Regions from separate parts of the Homo sapiens genome. Here region 2 is linked to region 1. The links come from fine-mapping of genetic effects on gene expression. A gene starts in region 1. The other region holds a variant in brackets. All regions are shown on one strand. Distances are between the middles of the regions. Region 1 holds the start of JOSD2 (Josephin domain containing 2). Region 2 overlaps GARIN5A (golgi associated RAB2 interactor 5A).

The links. PIP is the estimated chance that this variant, and not a neighbour inherited with it, causes the effect.
Region 2: its variant is the best candidate, but not a certain one, in a credible set for the expression of JOSD2 in whole blood (INTERVAL, PIP 0.88).

The regions. Positions count from the first base shown.
Region 1 is chr19:50,509,984-50,512,882 of GRCh38, forward strand. JOSD2 (Josephin domain containing 2) reads right to left here and starts at 1,208. Exons shown (of 5, transcript NM_001270639.2): 1 at 1,134-1,208; 2 at 303-465. The coding sequence starts at 448. It overlaps ASPDH (aspartate dehydrogenase domain containing), which reads right to left. Exons shown (of 7, transcript NM_001114598.2): 4 at 2,678-2,827; 5 at 2,377-2,597; 6 at 2,153-2,307; 7 at 1,620-1,790. The coding sequence ends at 1,747. It overlaps LOC124904747 (a long non-coding RNA gene), which reads left to right and starts at 1,435. Exons shown (of 3, transcript XR_007067300.1): 1 at 1,435-1,488. RefSeq lists enhancers at 1-388, 389-895, 1,390-1,509, 1,813-2,402 and a silencer at 1,060-1,189.
Region 2 is chr19:50,467,840-50,470,738 of GRCh38, forward strand. The region is part of intron 3 of GARIN5A (golgi associated RAB2 interactor 5A); the gene reads right to left. Among named protein-coding and RNA genes, the nearest start is that of EMC10, 7.2 kb to the right of the region's middle. The variant G/A (reference allele first, on the strand shown) is at 1,382.

The DNA of each region.
Region 1 (2,899 bases):
CCGAGCTCGCAGTGAGCGAGATCGCGCAACTGCACTCCAGCCTGGGCAACAGAGTGAGACTCAGTCTCAAAAAAAAAAAAAAAAGAAAGAACCACTGGATTGAGGTCTGGCTGGGGCTGAGGCCACAGGGACAGACAGGCACAGGAGGCAACATCTCCCCAGAGTCCCAGCGTCTAGCTTAGGCAAGTGAGCGCGGAGCAGAAGAAAGCCCCCAAGGCTCAGCGCCTGCCTGGCGGCGAGACCCAGGTGGGTCACTCCGCCAGAGCTCTGCTGCTCCAGGGGCTGGGGTGGGTGACGGTCACCTCTTGCAGATCTCATCGGCAGCCTCCTGGCTAAAGAGCTGCTGCTGCAGAACGTTGTTGAGGGCGTGGACAGCACACAGCTCCAGGCGCTGCCGTTCGTGGTACACGGTGGGTGGGCTCGGCTGTGCTCCCGGGGCCTGGGACATGCCGTCCTCGGCTCCTGCTGGGGGTTGGGAGGGGGAGAAGGTCCTCAGGGGCCCGGGATCTAGAGGTCCAGCCTCCCAGCAGGCCTTTGGGGCATCGCCATTGATTGAGCTGGGACTCGGAGCAGCCCAGGAAGACACTGGGCCCCTGACCCCGCTCCCTGGCAGTCTCCTGGCAGCACACGTCCCTCCATCCCTTATTCCTATTCCTACGAAAAACGCTGTCTCTTCTGCTCCCCTAGCAACAGAAAACCACCCTCACCAGGTCTCTAAGTAAAAGGGTCCCTATCATGGTCACCTAGCAACAGAGGAACCTGCCTCCCCGTCCCTAGGTAACCAGGGCGCTCTGTGGTTACCTAGCAACAAAGCCCCCTCCCCACCGCACTAGGTAACAAAGTCTGTCCTCCGAGCACCTAGCAATAGAGAATCCTCCTCCCCTGTCTCTAGGTGATAGGGTCCCCTCTGGTCTCCTAGCAACAGAAGACTCCCCTTCCCCGGTCATGTAGCAGCGAGGCTCTCTGCTCTTGTCACCTGGCAACGGGGCCCCCTCCCCAGTCACTAAGCAACAGGAGTTCCTCTTCCTATCACCCAGCAACCAGGCCCCCTCCCCGGACACCAAGGAATGGAGCCCTTCGCCGACCCGCACCCCAGCCACGGCGCTCGCCCTTTGCCTGGCAACGCCCCTCACCCCGCCTGCCTCTCCGCTCCACCGAGCCAGGGGTTTCCGCATCCCCTTCCTGGGCGGCGGCTCTGGGCTCCGAGTGCGGGGCGGGCAACACCGCGCTGACTGGGCAGGCGGGACGGACTACAGCTCCCGGTGATCCCCGCGCGCCGGACTACGACTCCCGTGGGGCCCCGCGGGACTCCTGCTCCACACGGAACGCCCGGGCCGCGTGGCCCTGAAGTCGGCCGTCGGGCCTAGGAAATGCCGCACTACAACTTCCGTCGGGCTCCGCGGCAGGTCCCGGAAGTGCGCCTCAGAGGCCCTTCTTTCGCATACGGCCGCGCCCACTACTGCTCAGAGATTCTAGGAAACTTAGTAGGTAGGCTCTCGCGATAGCTTCCTGGCGCCGCGCTCTCATGGGTGCTCGCCCCCGGCGATGGCGTCATGCGCGGTGCGCAGACGCAGCGTGACGTCACACAAGGGAAAGGGATCAGAGACGCCAGGCGGTGCGGGGGGAGGCAGCGGTGATCTTTACTGAGTCAGAAGGGAGACCCTGGGGAAGTGGGGCAGGGCAGGGGTGGGATGGTGGTGGTGAGAGGCCAGGCAGATGATCTTGTCTCGGGAGGGAGGAGGCTTCTCAGCAGAGATGGATCCCCGGCCTGGAGGGGAGCTGGCAGCAGGCTGCGGGGAGAGGGGAATGAGCGAATGAGACAGAGGAGAGATGAGGAGACAGACGCCTGGGGGAGGCAGTGGTGGGAGGAGGGGACAGGGCAGGGGGGCGGTGGAGGAAGACCCGGAGAGAGCGGGACAGAGCCCTGGGGGTGGACAGAGACAGAGAGAGTCTCGATCAGAGGCGGGCACAAATGGAGACATCTACAGTGCCAGGATTCAAAGTCATGGAGAGAGGTTAAGGAAATAAAGGTCAGAAAGAAAGAAAGGTCAACAAATACAGAACCAGAACTGCAGAACTAGTGAGAGCCCGGGACCCCCAAGCTCTGCAGAACACAGGAGCCCAGGGCCGGGGGAGAGGGGCCTGGCCGCACCCAGGAGGCTCTGCCAGAAGGCCGTGACGGTGGCGGAGCCGGTGACCGCGCCTGGCTCGGCAGGGTTCTCTCTGCGGGTGTGCACAGCAAAGCTTCGGCCCGTGGGGCCCCGGGGTCCGCTCAGCTCTACATCCACCACGTGCATGTCCGTGAGGCTGGGACAAGAGGGGCAGTCAGTCTGGAGAGCCTGGACTCAGCCCAACACCCTGCTTAGCTCTGCTCACCTGGTATCAGCCACGAGCACCCCAATCACCCCATCGAAGCCCAGGCTGGGGGCAGCCAGGGCAGCCGCCGCCATGGTGTTGGAATTTCGCGGGGCAAAGGGGCAGAGCCCACGGACAGGGCCTTCGTAGAGCACAGTGCAAGGCCCAGGGCTGTGGGCTGCAGCCAGGGGTCCCTCAAGCCGGAAGCCATCGGGGTGTGTGGCCATGGTGACACGAAGGCTCTGGAAGCAAGAGCCCGGGTTAGGGGGAGTGGGGTCTTTGCAGGCCTCCCCTGGTTCCTGGGGAGCCCAGCAGGCCTCACCCGGAGGCCCCCAGCTGCATCCAATCTCCTGATGTCCTCAGCGCCCCACAGGGCCCCTCGGGCCACAAACACGGCGTGGTCCCAGTGCTGTGAGGCCTCCAAGAGCTGCCGCTCTGTGGTCTGGTCACTTAGAGCTGAGGGGGACCCCACCTGGGGTGGATGAAGGAGGGGAGGGTTGAGGTCAGGGAAGGATATCCACTTCAGGGTGGGGTGAGACCAAGA
Region 2 (2,899 bases), 42 kb before region 1:
GGAAGGGGCGGCCTCAGGTTCTGACCCTGTCGGGTCCTCCAGCACCGTCGGGGTCAGGGGTCCCCACCTTGCCACCCCTCCCTCTGCCCCACGAATCCCTTTCCACTTTCATTGCCTCTTGAACTTGAGTCCATTCCCAACTTTCTTCCAGCCACATGTCTCCTTTTTGTCTCCCACTAGTCCTCTCCCCTAAACTCCAGACTCGAATATACAACTGCCTACTTGAAATTTCCATCTGGGGCCAGGCGTGGTGGCTCACGCCTGTGATCCCAGCCCTTTGGGAGGCTGAGGCAGGAGGATCACCTGAGGTCAGGAGTTCGAGACCAGCCTGGCCAACATGGTGGAACCCCATCTCTACTAAAAATAGTAAAAATTAGCCGGGCGTGGTAGTGGGTACCTATAATCCCAGCTACTTTGGAGGCTGAGGCAGGAGAATTGCTTCAACCTGGGAGGCGGAGGTTGCAGTGAGCCGAGATCACGCCACTGCACTCCAGCCTGGGCGACAGAGAGAGGGACTGTGTCTCAAAAAAAAAAAAAAAAAAAAAAAAATCCCATCTTGGGTGTGGGATCTACCATCCGACTCATAACATGTTCAACAGCCCACTTCTCAAGCTCCCTCAGCCCCTCACACGCAGCCTACTCCTCTTGGTCTTCCCTGTCTTAGCTACATCCCCCTCTTGCTTGGTCAAAATCTTGGAGTCGCTGTGGACTCCATGTTCTCACACCCTGATGAGTCCTGACACCACATCCTGGTGGCTCCACTATTTTTTGTTGGTTTTTGAGATAGAGGGTCTCACTCTGTTGCTCAGGCTGGAGTGCAGTGGCACGGTCATAGCTCACTGCAGCCTCAACATCTTGGGCTCAAGCAATCCTCTTGCCTCGGCCTCCAGAGCAGCTGGGACTATACGCGCACCACCATGCCTGGCTAATTTTTCTATTTTTATATAGTAGAGATGGGGTTTCACCATGTTGGCCAGGCTGGTCTCCAACTCCTGGGCTCAAGTGATCCTCTCGTCTCTCAAAGTGCCGGGATTATAGGCATGAGCCACCTCACTTTGCCTGCCACCTTTAAAATGTATCCACAATCCAAACTCTTTTAACTCCCTCCTCCGCCACCCTTGCGTCCAGCCACCTGCCTCAGCCCTCAGTCCCTACAGTCTGTTCCCCACAAGTCCCCCAGAAGGCGCAGGTCAACACCTTGGGCAGTTTGGGTCCCTCTGCTCAGAGCCTTCCTGTGGCTCTGGCTCAACAGGAATAAACACAAAGCCCTCACCGTGGCCCACAGACCTGCAGAGCCCCTTGCTCCCTCTCTGCCCTCACCTCCTGCACCTCCAGCCACACTGGCCTCCCTGCTGTTCCATGAACACACCAGGCTCAGTCC[G/A]ACCCTAGCACCTTTGCACAGATGGTTCCCTCCACCTGAAAAGCCCTTTCTCCAGGCAAGACCCGCCCCCTCATCGCCCTGTGTTTCAGGAGGCATGTTCTCAGGGATGTCTCCCCTGGCCTATTTCAACCACATCCACCCTGTTGAGACTTCCCCGTAGTCCTTTCCGGTCTGACGGAGCCCCACAGGCCTTGCCCATCTAACAAATGGCCACCTGTTCCCTCTGCCTGCCTGGTAGAGTGGGAGCTCCTGGAGGGCAGGGAGTTCCTGGAGGCCTGCTTTGTCCAGTGGTGAAAGTTTCCCTGGTACCCGCAGCTGACACGTGGCAGGTGCTCAGTGGATGCTTCAGTGGATGCTTTTTGAGTATCTTGGTAAATTGATTGCTCAGGCCCGCAGCCCGATTTAAGGTCCAACAGGGCAGAGCAGGAAGCAGTCAGGAAAGAGTGAGGATCTTGGCTCAGGTCACACAGCCAGGATTGGAGCCCAGGTCCCATGTTCACCTACAACACTGAGTAGCCAGGTGGCCTCTCTGGTCCAGCAGTATCACTGCCAGGAATGGATCTCACAGACACCCTCACACCTGTGCACAGACACATATGCGCGGATGTCCCCTGCCACACCGCCTGTAACCGAGATGCCAACAAACCCCAGTGTCCCTCAGTGGGTGACTTGATTTTTGTCCCCCAAATAGAAGAATAACAGCTGACATTTGTGGAGCACTTACTCAGAGCCAGTTGCTATTATATTTACCCAGTTTTTCCCCCGACAACCTTATGGGGTGTGCTCTCCTCTTATCCCTGTCATCCAGATGAGGAAACTGAGGCACAGGCAGGTAGGTTGAGCTTGGCCAAAGCCAGTGATGAAGTAACGCCAGGATTTGAAACCAAGCCGTCTGAGGGCAGGCATTTGTTTAAGGACGTTGCCTACCACTTTAACATGAGGAGGCTGGACACAGCTTGGTGTCTAAGACAGCAGAGCACGTGCAATGGTCAAAAAGAATCCAACTGTGCAGGCTGTGCACGGTGGCTCAGGCCTGTAATCGCAGCACTTTGGGAGGCCGAGGCAGGCGGATCACCTGAAGTCAGGAGTTTGAGACCAGCCTGACCAACATGGCAAAACCCTGTCTCTACTAAAAATACAAAATTAGCTGGGTGTGGTGGCACATGCCAGTAATCCCAGCTACTTGGGAGGCTGAGGCAGGAGAATTTCTTGAACCTGGGAGGCGGAGGTTGCAGTGAGCCAAGATCATGCCACTACACTCCAGCCTGGGCAACAAGAGTGAGGCTCCGTCTCAAAAAAAAAAAAGAGTCCAATTGTGCAAATATGTCTGAAAGAGTGTGGTGGCTGTGCTCATGGCAATACAAAACGGATATGGGTGTCGTGCTGACGAGGGGGTGGGCGCAGGGAGAAGTGGCGTATGGCTTGTGGCTACTGCTGTTTTTTTTTTTTTTTGAGATGGAGTCTCGCACTGTTTCCCGGGCTGGAGTGTAATGGCGCGATCTTGGCTCACTGCAACCT